Linked DNA regions of Homo sapiens: region 2 is linked to region 1. The links come from fine-mapping of genetic effects on gene expression. A gene starts in region 1. The other region holds a variant in brackets. All regions are shown on one strand. Distances are from middle to middle. Region 1 holds the start of PRDM6 (PR/SET domain 6). Region 2 holds the start of PPIC (peptidylprolyl isomerase C).

The links.
Region 2: its variant is fine-mapped to the expression of PRDM6 in thyroid (GTEx, PIP above 0.99).

What each region holds. Positions count from the first base shown.
Region 1 is chr5:123,083,316-123,092,297 of GRCh38, forward strand. PRDM6 (PR/SET domain 6) reads left to right here and starts at 5,926. Exons shown (of 8, transcript NM_001136239.4): 1 at 5,926-6,204; 2 at 6,685-7,291. The coding sequence starts at 6,700. It overlaps PRDM6-AS1 (PRDM6 antisense RNA 1), which reads right to left and starts at 7,001. Exons shown (of 2, transcript NR_146771.1): 1 at 6,757-7,001; 2 at 2,916-4,624. RefSeq lists enhancers at 4,576-5,120, 5,121-5,665.
Region 2 is chr5:123,034,690-123,043,671 of GRCh38, forward strand. It overlaps PPIC (peptidylprolyl isomerase C), which reads right to left and starts at 2,036. Exons shown (of 5, transcript NM_000943.5): 1 at 1,820-2,036. The coding sequence starts at 1,936. It overlaps PPIC-AS1 (PPIC antisense RNA 1), which reads left to right and starts at 1,233. Exons shown (of 2, transcript XR_001742868.2): 1 at 1,233-1,599. RefSeq lists silencers at 732-904, 2,213-2,262. The variant T/A (reference allele first, on the strand shown) is at 3,015.

The sequences.
Region 1 (8,982 bases):
CCCTGGGAGGGGGGAAGTCTCAGGAACCCCCTCATTTAGAGGGTAGCTGGAAGCTGCTCCTAGAGACTGTTGCTGGGCACTCAGGGGAACCTACCATGCACTAGGAACTGCCAACCCTCAGAAGGTGAATCAACCATAGCATATGTTTCTAATTCGAACAGATGTACTGTAACATGCTTACCTCATCCTGGTTATGACTGAAGTCCTATAAGCTTCAACTAATTTAAGCAACAATCTGGTGACCAACAGAAGACTGTGTCTGAACCAGGTAGCATTTGCTAGAAGAGCTTCAAAGAAGATTGTCCCAGAGATCCCTACCAATAGTCTCGTGCACACAGTATGTGTTCATTAGATATTCTGTACAGCTGTTAAATTGTAGGTAACTATAATTGGGTTTGTCTATTCTTACAGATACTTGGAAAAATATAAGATTAAATTCCTGGGGAAAGGGTGGGATGGGAAGGAGATAGTGAAGGGAATTTGTGAGTTTCTGAAGGGATAGCTATTCTTGTCTAATCATTTCTCTTTTCCTTGACTTGTCAAGACAAAAAAAAAAAAAAAAGGAGTTGTTTTTCACCCAGTTGCTATTCATTAAATCTTTATGGGACTGAACTGCCACCAATATGTTTTAAACTCACGAGACCTTTGCAAATTATAATAGCTGATTTCCCTGCAAACGGAAAGGATATATTTAGAGGCTTTCCTGGGAGAATGAACTGGCCCCAGGGATTCATAATGGACTGCAGAGCCTTTCACCTCAAGGTCAGTAGGTCAAATCCAAATCAGGCCTGAGGTGGCTGAGAGGCATCATTTGACTGGCAGCTGTTGGGTGACCAGGGTGAAAGGAACTGGAGGCTTCGGCTGCATTTCAAGTAACGTGAATAGGTGCTGTCTGCCAGGGTCCTGGCGGAGGATGAAAGAGAGTGGTCACAAATCTCCTGGGCTTGGTCTCCCGGACCCAGAGGCCATTTTTGACCTGGCAAAGTGAGGAGCTGAACTTCCAAGTACTTTTGTGAGAGGAGGAAAGCTGAGGGAAGGACATGTCTAAATTGCCAAGGCCTCAGAAGAGGAGGGTATGTCAGATGAATGGCGAGGCACCTGCTGCATCACCTGAGGCCAGAGCTGGCTTCTGTGTGCTAAGCATTTCACTGCCTTCTATCTCCTCTGCCTCACTCCTCGCACCCTTTCTTTCCAATGGTGGCTGGCGCTGTCTTCTGTCACTAAGTAAGGATGAACAAGTGAAGATGCAAAGGGATCAACGGGCAGACTGCAGTGATTAAAATTAATGGTGAGGGTTTTCTAGTTTTTAGTTGGGCAATACATTTTACACCCTGCTCATCTTAGACTCACAGCATGCAGGAGTAGGGTATAAAATATGTAATAGGGTGGGGAGGTCAGAATTCGGTAGCTGCTTCATAAAAGCTTAGGACAGAACACTGCATTTGTCCTGCCTCTTCTTTGGACTGTTGAAGAAATTGAGGTCCAGATAGTTGGAGGTCGGTCACCGTGTCAGGGTCTAAGTTACCAGCAAGTTAGGCGACTCCAATTGATGAGAACAGTCAATGGAGGTACTGAAAGAATATCGAGTAGTACACAGCAGCTTAAGGGAAGCAAGTGTGGCCAGTAGCGAGGAGGCAAATCCTTGACAGTTCTTCAGGAGAGGCCCCTTTTACTGCTTTAGCCACTGGCTATAGGTTAGGGCAGGGAATATCCCGCTCTGGACAGAAAACTGGCATCTTCTTGCTTCAAGTCTCTATTTAAATTTCACTTTCTAACAGAAGCTTTCCCTGGCCACTATATGTAAAACAGTAACTCCTTCCACCTACATGCACTCCCTTTCCCTCTATCCTTTATTGCTTTCCATAGCACTTATTCCCATCTAACCATTACTGATTTATTACTTACTATTTACTTTCAGTCTCCGCCTCCAACCCCCTTCTCCATGATCCCATTTCTGAGGGGTGGAGTGTCCTCCAAAAGTTGCCTGTGCCCTCAGGAGAGGAGGTTCCCTTAGATTCCAAGTCTGGGCAAGTTTCAAAGCTCCTCCCTTGGGAACCTCATAGGGATGGGGGTGGGGTCCTGTTTTTTTCTCACAGCTTTCCCTTTTGCCTGCAATCCAAGATCCTCAGTGAGAAGGCTCCTCCCTGGTCCCAAACCATGGAGGAAAGGAGCTTTCTAAACAAGCGAATGAACAGGTATGGAAGGAAAAAGGGCCACCGCAGGCCAGAGTCTCTGTGCTGTTTAGATACCACATTTTCAACCAAGTTTTTGCTGGCAGGCTCAAGGGACCTGTCTGCTAATACGGCTCAGCAAAGATTCCTCCTAGCTACATCCAGCCTTTCCTTCTCCTCCCGCCCCCCTCCTTTCACCTGCAGCCCACCCCCCACCCCCATCCATTTCCTAGGAAAACAAATCTCTGGGAGGAGGCAGGAAGAGTGGATCTCAGCGAACCCTTCTGAATAAATGTCTATATTAATGAATTATTAACTCAGCCACCCGTGACCTTAAACCTACTAGAAGCAGGAGCACCCAGGGCAGAGCGGAGAGCTGCTGAATCCTTTATTGGAGTCCTGTCAAAGGCAACCGACCATTTGTTCCACTCCCCCATCAAGAAAAAATAATATGAAAGGCAAACTTTTGAATTGTATGTTAAACGGAATCAGATAGAGGGTCTCCTGGACAGAACCCCCTTCTCTCCTCCTACCCCTTCTGCTGCTCCCTCCCTACCCTGGCCTCCAGCTACATCCTTCCCCTCCCAGCTCAGGGTACAATGGGCTTCCCAAGGATAATTTTCGGGGCGAAAATGCTCGAGAAAATGATGAATTTGGGTAATTTATCGATCCTGGCTCCTCTTCCCACTTGTTTTATTTTAGAGGTCATTAATCAATGAAGAAAAACACCACCGTGTCCCCCCGTTTGCATTTAATACACTCAAGGCTCCTCATTTATTCCTCTGGAACAAATTCCCAGCAAATATTCACCCATCGATTTGGGAGCGATGGATTTTTATAAAGGTTTGATCGCTTTCTAAGTGGTCGAAGTGATTTGTTTCCGTGGTCTTCTCAGTATTGAAGGGGGTGGGGGAAGCGGATTTGAGGGGGTGCATGTCCTTGCCGTCGGTGGGCTCACTTTCTAAAAACTATTGAGATGCGCCAGGGTGGCCGTGACCAAGCGGGCCCAGGGTCAACTGTGTGAGGGGGAAGCGCCCCTCAGAGCGCGCGCAGCGTCGGGGGTCCAGCTTACGCCGCTGCGCGCCCTTGTGCGCACCGGGTGAGGATGCCGAGCTCTGCGGGCATCCCGGAAGCCGCGGTGGAGGCAGGGGCCCCGCTCGGCGCAGTGGGCCTGCTGGGGAGGTGCAGGGGAGGTCCTGACTCCTGGTCTATTCCCTTCCAGACTTTTTCGTTCGCTCCCGGACCTTCAGGGCTCTCCCTCAAACTTTCTCCTGCCCCCTTCACGGGAGGTTCCTGTAGCCTCTGGGCCTTAGGGTCCCGTAAGCCTCGGGATCGACTTGTGCCCGGGGTGGGTGTGGCGGAAGCTTGAATCGGATTACCCAGGTACGCCACCTGTAGACGTAGTGGGCGAGGGGGACTTTGCTACCTTCTCAGCTTCTTCCCTGGACCCCGCAGCGAGGGGAACCAAATCTCTCCCATGATAGCCCCTCTGGCGTCAGTCTGGACCGAGTGGCTACAGGTTGGACTAGGGTAGGCAGAAGATGCACTTGGCACCTTACCGAACGGTATTTGAATCCGTCTCCATTACTCATTAATGGCGTGACCTTAGGCAACCCATCTAAACTTTCCGAACCTCAGCGGTCCCCATCTACAATATGGGGGTTAATGATAATGCCTTCTCCGCATGTAGGTGGATTAAATGGACATAAAGCGCCTACCCCCGCCCGGCACGTCCAAAACTCTCATTAACAGGTCAGCTAATCTTATTACGAGAGGAACCCTCCCTCCTCCGCTTCCCAGAGTGTGGGCGGCATGAGGCCACGGAAGCAGCTGCTGCAACTAGCATTTCAAAATCCAGAGACTTTCTAATGGTGGCAGGGGGTGAAAGGGTAGGGGGGAGGCAGGGTTGGGACAGGTAGAGGTAGGTTCTTGGGGACTTCCAGTCTTGGGGACCAAGCGCTTGGAACTAGCTGGGTTTGGGCAGAAACAAGAAGGCAAATGACGGGACCGCCGCCGGAGTCCGGACTTCCATCCCTGGAGTTCACTGTCTCTCCCAGGGAACAGAGGAGTGTCCTGGTTTCTCAGCAATGAACCAGGAGAGTGTGAGAAAGAGCATTTGTTTCTTCTCCCGTGGCCCGACAAGCCACTCTTCGGCAGTTCTGCGAGCAGATTAATTGAAACGGGCCTGGAACTTCATCCTCTCCTCCCGATGGAGTTGCTGGAGGTCTGCGGACACTGCCTGGTTAGCCTCCGGGACCACAGCGCCGTGGGCTTTCCCTCGTGGTGTCTGCCTTAAACTTGGGTGCTATCAATCTATCCAACAATGACGGATGACCTTGTCATAACGACGCCAGTCAAAACATTTTCGGTCTAACTCTCTTCCAACCAACATCGAAGCATCCTGAATGAGACCCGGATGAAGTCTGAACAGCACGTTTCCCAGGTTCAGAAAACTTGAGTGGTGGGAAGAGAAAAAGAAACAAGCAGAAATCAGGAAAGAATGGCTATTAATTGCTCAGATTGGCAAGTGCTAAATAAGTTAGGTTGTTTGGAAAAAGATAAATGCCGTTTCTTCTCTTTACGGTATGGCCAGAACCCCGGCGATGGGAAAGTACCTCCTGAGTCGGTCAATTTCACACACCCTGCCTGTGCCCTCTACCATCTACTACCGAAAATGCCAGGAAGAGCTGGGGGGCAAGTGCCTCCTTCGTGGGTGCGAGACTGCATCGAAGGGCTGCCCTGGCACAAAGTCTGGGGAGAGGACATGGTGGAGGTGGGGCTGCACTCCCACCCTGCCCCTCTAACACCAGGTTTTGGGTAGAGAAACCTATGCGTGACCTCCTGCGGCAGCCGCAGGCAGCTGACCGCAAACAGCCTCGCCCGTGTCCCGGAGCAGTTGTGCCACCAGACGTAACACTGGATACTTGTCTCCGGGCCCCAAGAAGGAGAGGGAAAGAGCCCTCCAGAAGACAACCCGAGAAGGGGTCAGCAGAGCGCTGGGTGGAGTGCAGACTCCATTGCAGCCGCCTCCCAGCCCCACGGCCAAGCTTGAGTCCCTCCAGGACCAGCTGCTCTCGGTCTCAGGACCCTCGGTCCTACGCCTCCCTGCACCGACAAGCCTCCCTCCTGGGCTGCAGACAGAGGGTTTCACTGCAGCGCGCAACCCGTCCCGCTCCGCCCCCAACTTTTCTCCCCGGAGGATTTATGTTAGAGGTTGCGTGGCGGGCGAGTGGACTCTGGCACCCAGAAGCACTTCAGGAAAAACTGAGCCGGGCAAAAGCGCAAACCCGGTCCTGGCGGCGCGGGCTTGCTCCAGCGCGGACACCACAGCGTGTGCGGAGATGCATTCCCGTTGCCGCATTTCCACTGCTTTCAAGATCAGGGCACTGAGCTGGGACCCAGAAAAGACATATCATGGGCAGAAAGAGACAACAGGCTAGCGGCAGACGTCACGCCAAAAAAACAGGGGATGGGAGGGCGGAGGAGTTTGTGCGGGAAAGGCGCTCTGGCGATGTGGGTCGGGCCGAATTAGAACTTCCTTCTTCCCTCTCCCCTCCCCTTCTTCTGGCCTGCCTCCCCTCCCCCCTCCGTTCTCTCTCTCTCTCTCTCTCTCTCTCTCTCTCTCTCTCTCTCTCTCTCTCACACACACACACACACACACACACACACACACACACACACACACACACACACACACACACACACTCACTCTATTTTGTGCTGTCGTAAAACCCACGTGTCCAGCCGGGAAGCTGCCAGAGCGTGGAACCAAGGAGCCAGGACGCGGCAGCGGCCAAGCGCAGCAGCCCACGGCGGTTGAGTCGGGCGCCCAGGTCCGTCCGCACTCTCGCGCCCTCCGCGGGCCTCCCAATTTTCTCGCTTGCAGGTCGGGAGGTTTCCGGGCGGCACAATCTCTAGGACTCTCCTCCCGCGCTGCTCAGGGGCATGTAGCGCACGCAGGGCGCACACTCTCGCGCACCCGCACGCTCACCGAGACACCCGCACGCACCCACCGGCAGCACCGAGTTTTCAGGTAAGGTGAGGCTGGTCTGGGACTTAAGAGTCTAGGGCTTGGTAGATAGGAAGGTTGGTGGTCCTAGGTTGGGGGCGGGCGGCGAGACTGTTCTGCCTCCTGGCGCCTGAGGCCAACGCGGCTCGGGCGCTGCGCCACGCCGGCTCGGGTCGGCTCCGGGCGCTGGCTGAGGGCGGGGGCTGCGTCCTGCAGCCGAGTTCTACGGGGCAGCGCCCTCCTGTCGGGCCCCAGCATTGCTGGATGGGAGCTGGACGCTGCGATCGGGGAGGCAGAGCAGGGTGCACACAGCTCCCTCTGTGCGGCGCCGCAGCTTCGGAGTAAACTTTGCGCCCAAGCGGAGTTGGGAAGAGGGAGCCGCGGAACCGGGCGGCCGCCGGCTGAACCACCGGCTCGGGCACTTTCTCCAGGGTCCCAGTGGCCCTCTTCCCGGCCCCTTTCGCCCAGCTCACGCGCCCCCTCTTCCCTGCCCTCTGCCCCCAGTTCGAGGCGCCGGACATGCTGAAGCCCGGAGACCCCGGCGGTTCGGCCTTCCTCAAAGTGGACCCAGCCTACCTGCAGCACTGGCAGCAACTCTTCCCTCACGGAGGCGCAGGCCCGCTCAAGGGCAGCGGCGCCGCGGGTCTCCTGAGCGCGCCGCAGCCTCTTCAGCCGCCGCCGCCGCCCCCGCCCCCGGAGCGCGCTGAGCCTCCGCCGGACAGCCTGCGCCCGCGGCCCGCCTCTCTCTCCTCCGCCTCGTCCACGCCGGCTTCCTCTTCCACCTCCGCCTCCTCCGCCTCCTCCTGCGCTGCTGCGGCCGCTGCCGCCGCGCTGGCTGGTCTCTCGGCCCTGCCGGTGTCGCAGCTGCCGGTGTTCGCGCCTCTAGCCGCCGCTGCCGTCGCCGCCGAGCCGCTGCCCCCCAAGGAACTGTGCCTCGGCGCCACCTCCGGCCCCGGGCCCGTCAAGTGCGGTGGTGGTGGCGGCGGCGGCGGGGAGGGTCGCGGCGCCCCGCGCTTCCGCTGCAGCGCAGAGGAGCTGGACTATTACCTGTATGGCCAGCAGCGCATGGAGATCATCCCGCTCAACCAGCACACCAGCGACCCCAACAACCGTACGTAGCCGCAGCCCGCGCGCTCTCTCCCGGGGCGCCGGCGCCGGCGCCGGCGGGCGCGGGTGCCTGTCAGGGAGGCGGGTCGGATAGGAGTGACACGGGGCCGGGTGGGTGGGGAGCACCTGGTCCTGGCCGCTGGCCCGCGCCTCCCCGATCTCTGTGACAAAAGTTTTCTGGCGTTGGAGAAGGAAAGAGAACGGATGGGACGGCCGGTGGCACTTTGGGGTTCCCTCTCCCTCCCTCTCCTCACCTGCTTCACAGTCCCAAGTGTTTGGGGCCGGAGTCTACCGTGGACCCGGCCTAACAGACCTCTGCCCTCCCGCCGGACAGTGCCCGGGGCCAGGCGGGTACTGGCAGCGTGTGACAGGGGGTGTCTGGGTCAGGCCCTGCCTGGCCTTAGCCGGGACGAGGGAGGGACCCTCAGCGTCTCTGGGGAGCACGCAGACCAGGGCTTGTTTTTGCTACTCTCCACCCCACCTCTGGAGGGGTCATTTTCGGGCCGCGGGGTTGTGGGGGAACCGGCGGGAGCTGTTCGCTGGCCAGGCCTCACTGGAGTAGGAATTTTAGATGAAACTGAGTCCGTTTCTCCTTGAAGGCAGGCAGTATTCTTAGATCTACTATTCATTTAAAAAGAAGGAAAAGAAAAAAAAATGACTGCTACTTACTGAGAAGAAAATTTCTGTTCTCCTCCGATTCCGCTGATCCCGCTTTATCCGCGCACCTTTGACCCCGCAAACATTCATAACCCATGTTGGTTTATGTATTTATTTTTAGAAATTAGGGTGACTGTAATTTAGTAAAAGACGCTTACTCCCCTCTTCCTCCAAGTTAATAGCAAATGCCTAACTAAACATCAGAATTCCTGTAGCTTCGGTTTCTATATTCACAATTTGAAACGCTTATCACAAGTACAGTTCCATTTGGCGGTTTTGAAGCAAAACTCTAAATGAAGATCAAGCAATATGTACTGCTTTATACCTGCTTCTTTTTGATAATTTCAGAAGTTATACTGTGTTTACACCTATACTGTGTTGGGAGTGTTAAACGTGCTCCCAGAGACTTCTGGAGATAACATTAAAGTGTGTTAAGAGCGTCAGATTGAAAGCAATACAGGATTTGAAAGATCAGCATTCATTCAGCTATTTTCTTCATCTCATTCCTTCGTCTGGCTTCTGTATGAGTAAAGTTAATTTAAAACATTTATTTTTATTCAATTTTGAATAAGTTGCTTCTTGCAAAATGTCTACCGCTCTGTGAACTTCTTAATTCGTTGTAAAAGCAAAATAAGTTCAGTTATAGCTCTTTAAAGGATTCCCTAAGTCGTTGATTTGATGAAAAAAAAAACACTGGGCAACTGCCTCGTGGTTGAGGTCTATGAATATTTTCATTATGTTGGACATAGCTGTGATGGAGATAATAATTACCAACAGAAAGAGCAATCGTATTTACTTTTTTCTTTATGAAGTTTGAGAGTAAAGCACTGGCTTAAAATAGTGGTTTCAACTCTAATTTTGCTGTGCAGTTGAGAAGACTTGTATTTCAGAGTTTCAGAAAGTTTTACAACATTATACTCTCCCAACAGATTTCAAAAAATACTTATCTCCTACTGAATTTCTTGAATGTGTGTTTTTGAAGCAAGTATTTTAAATTATGAAATAAAAAGATTTTTAAACTGCCTTGGAAAAGGTATG
Region 2 (8,982 bases), 49 kb before region 1:
ATCTAACTGGGCATCCTGTATTTTATTTGGCAATCCTATTCCCTCTCCCTCGCCCCCTTTCTAAACCGTCAGCAACTCCTGTTAGTTATATCTCCAAAATCTATTTCAAGTCCTTCCCTTGCTCCCCATTTCAATGATTACCACCCTAATCCAAGCCACCATCTGGACTCTGGCATGGTGCCCTGAATGACCTCCCATTTCACTCTCCACTGAGTGACCACATAAATTTCTCGAGTATATATTGAGATCATGCCATTCTTATGCTTAAAACCCTTCAGTGGCTCTGACTGCAGAATAACACTTCAAATTTTAAGAATTGCCTCAATACCCGCATGCCTACCTGCAGCCTCTAAGGCCCTGTGTGATTCCGCTGCTGCTCACCCCTCCAACCTCATCTCAAGTCACCTCTCATTCTGTGCTGAAGCCATTCCGTCCTCTCCACATCCTCTGAATGCAGGGAGGGCTTTCCTGTTTGAGGACCTATGCATATGCAGTTCCCTTTGCCTCCTTAGTCTTCTCTGCGCTGGTTTTTCTCATTTTTCAGCTATTTTTAAATGTCACCCAAAGTATATTACAGTTTATTTCCTCCAACATTTCATAATTGTGCGAATTTTATGTTTATGGCTTTATCCCAAGAGACCCCGTTCAGCTCTGTGGCCTTGCACAAACCATTTCCCAAAGTTAGACATGCCTACAAGATCAAGAGGCTGGGAGTAAGATCAGAGCTTCTCGAAACCATCAGGCTGTTTATCAGCCCCGCCCACAACGTGGCACGGCCTTTCTGCGACATCAGATGCTGAGCTGGACCTCCTCCTCCCCACCCCCTAGTCCTCCCCGTCCTCAGGTGGCGTCTGCGGTCGAGGATGTAAGCATTCTACTCGTTGATTAGTATCGTTTCCATTGACAAACCCCAGACTGATGAAGACCACTTTCAGCTGCAGCCCGCCCCCTCCAGCTTCAGCTTCGAAGACACTATTGCCAGTGGGTTTTCTAGAAGTGGTGATCATGGGCACCAAATTATCCCCTCCCTCTCCCTGCATTCTCCCATTATCGTCTACCCTTGGTTAAATACGCTGAAAAAAGAACTGAAGCGGAGTTAAGTACGAGGAAGCCTTAAAGACGCACTTTCTGGCAGCCCCCCGCCCCCTTTCCCCGCAGTGGAGGCTGCCCCAGGTCTACAGGTGCCGCCTTCGCCCGGCCTCGCGTAGCCCACAGCAGGGGCCGCCCGCCCGCCGAAGTTGAAGGCGCACCTCCCCTTCCCGGGAAGGACGACGGTTCCCCAAAAGAGGCGGAGGGTAGTCTCTCATCTGAACCAGGCGCTTTAATGCCTGCCTGAAGCCACCGCGGCCAGCGTGGAGACCACGCAGCGGGCGGGCGGCTGCAAGCCCTGGGCTCCGAGCGCCTCTCCTGTGCGGGTCCCGCCCCCCTCCCCGCATTCCTCTCGTTCTGCTCCCGAGCCCAGGCCACGCTGAAGGAAGTACTTGGGCAGTCTCTTTCCTGGAGAACGGGCCCGCCGGTTCCGGAAGCCTCTCCTACCCCCAGGCTGGTCACCTCGGACTACCGACCCGGGACAAGAAGTCCAAGCAGACTGCGGCGGAGGTAGGCTGGCCTCAGCCCAGCTCCCCCAGGGTCTCCCCCGGAGCGCCGGCCTCCCAGCACGCGAGCAGCCCCCTCCCACCCAGTCCCGCGGCCGCCTCCAGTCCCCCTGCGCCCGGGAAGCCTCCACCTCGCCCGCCCTGACACCGAGGTCCCAGTATCCAAAGCGCCCCCAGGGCCCCGCCCGCAACAGGGGAAGTTGCAGCCCGCCGCTCTCGGTCACCTTGGCCGTCACCGAGGGGCCTCGCTTGCGGAAGCCCTCGGCCCCCGAAGAAAACACAAGTGCGCCGAGCCCCACGCAAAGCACGAGAGGTAGCAGCAGCCGAGGACCCGGGCCCATGGTGAGCGGTGGCAGCGGCGCTACCGGCACGGGCGCTACCGGCACGGGCGCGACACAGGCTCTGGGACAGCTGACGGGACTGCCGGCCGGCTGCGCCTGCGCGCTCCCGGTTGCGGGGGATGGGGATCGGGCAGTCCGGGAAGGGCGGGGACCCGGGGCGCGTTCCTCCCAAGTTCAGACTCGCGACCCGAACTTGGGATTCGGAGGAGCGCGCCCACAGGGCGCAGCCAGGGCTCGACCGCCGCGCCTTAGGCGGGTGCGGAGGGCGCCAGGGACGGGAGGGAGCCCGGGTTGCCCAGGCGCGGAGCCGGGCGCAGCGGGCTAGGCTGGGAGCACCTCCAGGAATTTACCGCGTAGGCGCGGATTAAACTTGGACGGGAAGACCAGGACTCTCGGGCTTCCGCGTCCGCCCGGCAGCTAGCGCTCCGCGGGACTGGGAACTCTGCAGCCGGTCCCGGTGTGATTGCTGCCGCCTTGGGAGCAGCCTCCGCCGCGGCCGCCGAGTTCCAATGGCCCATTGGAACCTTTTGCTAGGTTTTGGACGCTTAGCAGAACTTTGACATCGCTGGAGGCGTGGAGCCCTGTTGCACTCGAATAATGGCCTCTCTTTGAGATGATTCACGTCTAGGGAACACTGGAAAATGCTGGATTCACAGTGCCCCTTTGCCTTCGAAAAACTTTTACATTGGCTTTAAGTACTTTATTTGGAGGATGATTCTGTGATCTTATCTACACTGTTCACAAGGCAGCACTTACACAGGCCCAGAACCATGGTCATGTAGGATTCTTTCCTGGGGAAACAAAGTAAATAAACTGACTTTTAGGTGTATCTGTAGGATGGATTTTTTACAAACTTAAGAATTATGTTTAGGAAGATTAATGACTGGGGAAGTAAGTTCTTATTATATTTTTAAATGGAAAATTCGGGTTGCAAAACCACAAATTCTGATCTCAACCGTGAAAATAAATATATCAAGGCACTTAAATATTGAAAGAGATGTACCACAACGTTTACAGTAGCTATAGATAGAATTGATAGCTATTGATAGACTTATGGATTTTTGAGGGTTTAAAAAAA[T/A]TTTTTTTACAGTTTTCTGATTTCCCAGATGTTCTACAATGAGCATATAAGTATTTTATAACATGGAAAGGGTTATTTTAAAACTCATTGCTTTTTGAATTAGAATTTCAAAAGAACTTTTTTGTTTTAGAGTAACAGCCCTAAAATTAACTAAAAATTAGTGGTATTCGCACATAGGTGCCATTTTAAGGGGCTGGTGCCATTACTTTCAAGCCAAGATTTTCCTCGGATTAAGAGATGGAATTTCTAAATGTCAGATGGGATTCCTAGGTGTACCTAAGTGTAGATCTAAAATGACATTGGAACCATTAGAGATAAAAGGAGTAACCACTACTTCTTTGGGGTGAGAAAAAGGAGAAATGCAATTCTGAGCTATTTTTATGATTCAGTCCAGTGAAAGACCTAATGGCTTTCCTCTTCATCCCCACCCCCAATAAGGAAAGAGTCCCCCTTGTGTAGCAAGACAAGGGTATCTCTCAGAGCACTTACCCTACGAGGTGACTGTGAGGTGATTGTATATATTTATCTGTGTTCATTAATTGTTTTTGTCTGTCTGCTATCAGAAGTAAGCAGGGCCAGGGCAGGGATCAGGCCTATATTTATTCCCCTTTGATGACCCAGATCTAGTGCAATGCCTGATATATAGTGATTTCTCAATAACTATTTGTTGAATGAATGAATGTGTCCAACTACTTTTTATGCTACCACCATCTCACCCTCTAGGCAAAGAAATGAAATCTTTCCCAGCTCCCTAGAAACTCCTCTTATACCCTCTGCCAGTTACAAACACTTTTTTCTGCCCAAATTAACTGCAATCCTGACTTTTCTTGTACTATAGTTTAATTTTGTTTTAATTTTATTTGAATAGGGTATTACCGTATGTATTTCTTTTTGCTTAAATTTTTGTGAAATTCATCTATATTTTTGCATATAACTATTTTGGTGGCTAATACAAAGTAGGAAGCAAATTCATTTTTTTCATAAGAATATTCATTTATTTCAGTACAGTTTATTGAAAATTCTCCCCTTTAACTCACCGCTCCATACTGTTCTTCTGTCACAGAGCAAGTGCCCATGTATGCATAGGTGTGTTTGTGGGCACCCTATCTGTCCCATTGGCCTATTTGTCTGTCTTTGTGCCAATACTACATTGTCTTCATTAAAATAGCTTTATAATAACTCTTCATATTCAGTAATACATACCCTCTTAGCTTTGTTCAACAAATTCTTGGCTGTTCTTGAGCTTTTCCATGTCCATATAACTTGAGAATCAGCCTGTCAGTTTCCACACACTGAGATTTTGATGGGGATTGCACTGCATCTGTAGACCATTTAAGACTTGGCAAATTTACAATATTGAGTCTTCTAATTCATGAACATAGCATATTTAAGTCTTCTTTGGTTTCTCTCAATAAGATTTTATAGCTTTCTGCCCAGAGGTCTTACACGTATTTTATTAGTTTGATTTCTAAGTGTTTTTTTATGCTATTGTCATGTATTGTAGTAAAATTAATTTATATATTAACTTTGTATATACCAACCTTGTTAAACATATTCTAATAATTTATCTGTGAATTGTTTAGGATTTTCTCCATAGACAATTATGTCATCCATGAATAATGACAGTTTTATTTCTTCTTTTCTAATCTTTACATTTTGTATTTCTTTTTTGGCCTTTTTACACTGGCTGGGATCTGCAGTACAAAAGGAAGTGGCAACAGTGGGAGTCCTTGTATTGTAGACTGAATTATCCTCCAAAAAGATATATTGAAGTCCTAAACCTTGGTATCTGTGAATGTGACCTTATTTGGACTGCCTTTGCAGACGTAATCAAGTTAAGATGAAATCATACTGGAGTAGGGTTTGCCCTACTCTAATATGACTTGTGTCCTCATAAAAAGGGAACAGACACAGACACACGCACAGAGAACACCATATGAGGATGGAGGCAGAGATTGGAGTGCTGTATCTACAAGACAAGGGATGCCAAAGATTGCTGGCAACCCCCAGAAGCTAGGAAGAGGCAAGGAAGGATTTGCCCCTAGAGCCTTCAAAGACAGCATGGCCTTGCCAACACCTTGATCTCAGCTGCTAGTTTCCAGAACTGTGAGACAATGCATTTCTCTTGTTTGAAGTCACCCAGTTTGTGGCACTTTGTTACAGCAGCCCTAGGGGGCTCATACACCTTGTCTTGGTCCCAGTGTCAGAGGGAAAGCTTCAGTGTTTCACCATTAGGCATGATATTTGCTGAAGGTCCTTTTGGGGGATATCTTTTTTCAGATTCAGAAAATTCCTTTCTAGTCCTTGTTTGCTAAGAGTTTTTAGCATATATTTGATTTAAATTTTATTAACATCATCTATTGAAATCAATTGAAATAATTATGTGATTCTCTTACTCTGTTAATGTGATGAATTGCATTGATTTTCAAATCTTAACCCAAGCTTACATTCTGGAATGTGTCCAACATGGATTATCCTTTTTATATATTACTAGATGTGGTTTGGCAATATCAGTTTATTAACAAAGTTGCCAAAAACTGAATATAGACTATCTTCTGAAGTTCAGGAAGAAAAGAGTGGGTAAAATGTGGCTCTGGCTGTCCAGCTGAGACTGAGTTCGTCACCCACATGTCATTTCAGTGTTAGTGGGTAAATCTGCTAATCTTATTTTCAGGATATTTGCATCTAAATTCTTGAATGAGACTAGCCTGAAATTTTCCTTTATTGGAGTTTCCTCTCAGCTTTTGTATTAGAGTTGTTCTGGCCTCTTAATATGAGTTGGCAAATGGTAGCTGTTTTTCCCCTACTCTTAAAGGGTTTGTGTAAGATTACCATTTCTTCCTTGAATGTTTCTTAGAAGCCATCTGAGCCTGGAGTTTTCTTTATTGTAACATTCTAAATTATATATTTAACTTTTAAAATAGTTGGAGATTATTCAAATTCTCTATTCTGTTCCTTTACTTGAAGTATTTTTCAAGGAATATATCCATTTTATTTATATTTTAAAATATTGTTTTATAAAGTTGTTTAAAACATTTTTTAATGATTTTGTAGGTCTGCGGGACCTGTAGTAATGTCTTCTTTTTCATTCCTGACATTGGTTGTTTCTTTTCTTGTTTTCCTTGAACAGTTTCACCAAGGAAGCTGATGAATCCAATATATTTTATCTTATTAATTTATGTTCTAACTTTATTATTTCCTTCTCTCTGCTTTCTTTGAGTTTAATTTACTGTTATTTTTCTGTCTTCTTGGATAGACTCTTAACTCATCAATTTTTAAAGCCCTTCCTTTTTTTATATAGTACTCTGTATACAGTTAAAATGATAAAGTTCCCCTTGCACTTCTTGAACGTTTTGATATGTCATATTTTCATTATTCTTTGAAAATAATTTCTAACTTATATTTTTATTTCTTTTTTGACCCATGTGTTATATAAAGGTATAGTACTTTATTTCCAAACATGATTTTTAAAAAATCCTTTTGTTAGTGATTTCTAACTTAGTTGTATTGTGGTCAGAGAACATATTCTGTATTATTTCATTCTTTTAAAATATGTAGAGACTTGCATTATCACATAGGATCTGAACAATTTATTTGATTCTGCCCTCGTTAGATATAGTATTCTACATATGTGTTCATTAGATCAATTCATATCTCTATCCTTACTTTTATCTGCTTGTTATAAGAGTTACTGAGAGAAGTGTGTTAAAAATCAATTTCATCATTGACTCTAGTTTGTTTATTTCTCCTTGTAGGTCTGTAAATTTTTTCTTTATATGTTTCTTTATATATTTTTGAGACCCTATTGAATGCAAACACATCTAAAATTATCTTTTGATTAATTAAATTATCTTATCATTATGTAGTATCATTCTTTATTTCTAATAATGTGTTTTGCCTTAAAGTCTGATATTAATTCTCCGTCTACTGGATTGGTCCATTATATGTTCTTTTATTATTCTTTCAGTAGTTATACTAGAGATTACAGTATATATTCTTGATTCCTTAAAGCCTACCATTACTTGTCACCTTTACTCTCTGGGTAATGCAAAAAGCTCAGGACACTTACCTCCTTTTCCCTTCTTAAGAATTGTATGCCTTTGTTGTCATGTATTTTATTTTACCCCATGACACAATTATTATTGTTTAATAAAGTTATATACACTTAGATATATCCACATATTTACATTTTCATTGCTCTTCATTACTTCTTGCATTTCAGACTTTATGTGGCCATTTTCTTTCTGCCTGAAGAAGTACATTTGGTATTTCCTTAACTGCTAGTCTGCTGGCAACAAATTATTTTATTTTTATTTGCCTGAAAATGTCTTTACTTGACTTTATTCCTGAAGGATATTTTTGCCCAGTATAAAACTATTTTATTTCTGTAGTATCAATATGTTACTTCCTTTGACTTCTAGCTTCCATTATTTCTGTTGGAAAATCCACTATTAGTCTAATTGTTGCTCCTTTGAAAGTGATTTGTTTTTTAAAATCTGAATGATTTTAACATTTATCTCTCTATATTTTGATTTTAAAGCAGTTTTATTAGAATTTGCTTAAATGTAGATTTCTTTTTACTTATCCTACTTGGGACTCAGGATTTCTGACTCTTTACCAAGTTTAGAAAATTCCCAGTCATTAACTCTTGAAAAGTCAATTATAATCAATCTCACTACCCTCGTACAATTACTTTCTTTTCTTTTTTTTTTTTTTTTTTTTTTTTGGAGACGGAGTCTCACTCTGTCACCCCATGCCTGGAGGCCTGGAGTGCAGTGGCAGATCTCAGCTCACTTCAATCTCTGCCTCCCAGGTTCAAGTGATTCTCCTGACTCAGCCTCCCAAGTAGCTGCGATTACAGGTGCCTCCCACCACACTGGGCTAATTTTTGTATTTTTAGTAGAGACGGGGTTTCGCCATGTTGGCCAGGCTGATCTTGAATGTCTGACCTCAGGTGATTCACCCGCTTCAGCCTCCCAAAGTGTGGGATTACAGGCGTGAGCCACTGCGCCTGGCCCAATTACTTTCATTTATGCATATTTCTCTATACTGTCTTTTACATGCACAAGACATTTGAAGTAATATACTGTAAAACTGTACAATTAAAATTATAAATAAAATGTAAGACCATGACATGAAATCCAAACAGTACATGGATGAATTATAAGAAGATTAGCTAATCTGCTAGCAGTTATCTTTTGTAATACTAAAATAAACAATGGCAGCATAACATTTTTGTAGCTTGCTTCTTTTGTTGTAGTTTTGATCCATCACAGACTGTTTGTGTTTCATTTATTAATCATTTATGAGTACCAAAGGGTACAGTTTTGTCACATTTAGTGTTTTCCCCCTAGCTTATTAGAAGCAAGTTTTAGATTTCTGCTACTTGTAAAATAAATGTGGCTCTCAAAGCTGCATGTCAATGTCTTTTATAAAACTCTTTATTTATTTTTTGTCCGCTATATCAATTTCTTCCCTCATTTATGTAAATAACATCTTAGTTAAGTCAAATATTACCTTCCTCTCAAACTAAGACGGAACTGGCACAAATGCCTTTGTTAAATTACATTCACTTTTAGCAAGTAAATGCCTAAACCCTTGTTAATTACTAGCTATTTATTTGAATGATGAATTCTGCTTGGGAAATTTCCTTTAAATGTCAGAATGAGGGAAATGTACAGTGACCTGAGATCATCCAGGAGGCACTAGGGTCTCCTAGCTAGAACCCGAGATCAGGGCTGAAGTTACTGGGGCTCTCATACTGTTCTTGTCTTTAATGTGCCTAGCATCTTTTTCTGGAGCTAATCATTTAGGCAAATGTTCTGCTCCTTTACTACCTGCCCCTGCCAAACTTTCAGTGACAAAATCTTTAAGGGATTAAAAACGAATCTTGCTTTTATTTGCCAACCTGGACAAAACCAACTAGCACTGTTAATGACAGGTATCATTAAGATACTCTGTTCTCACC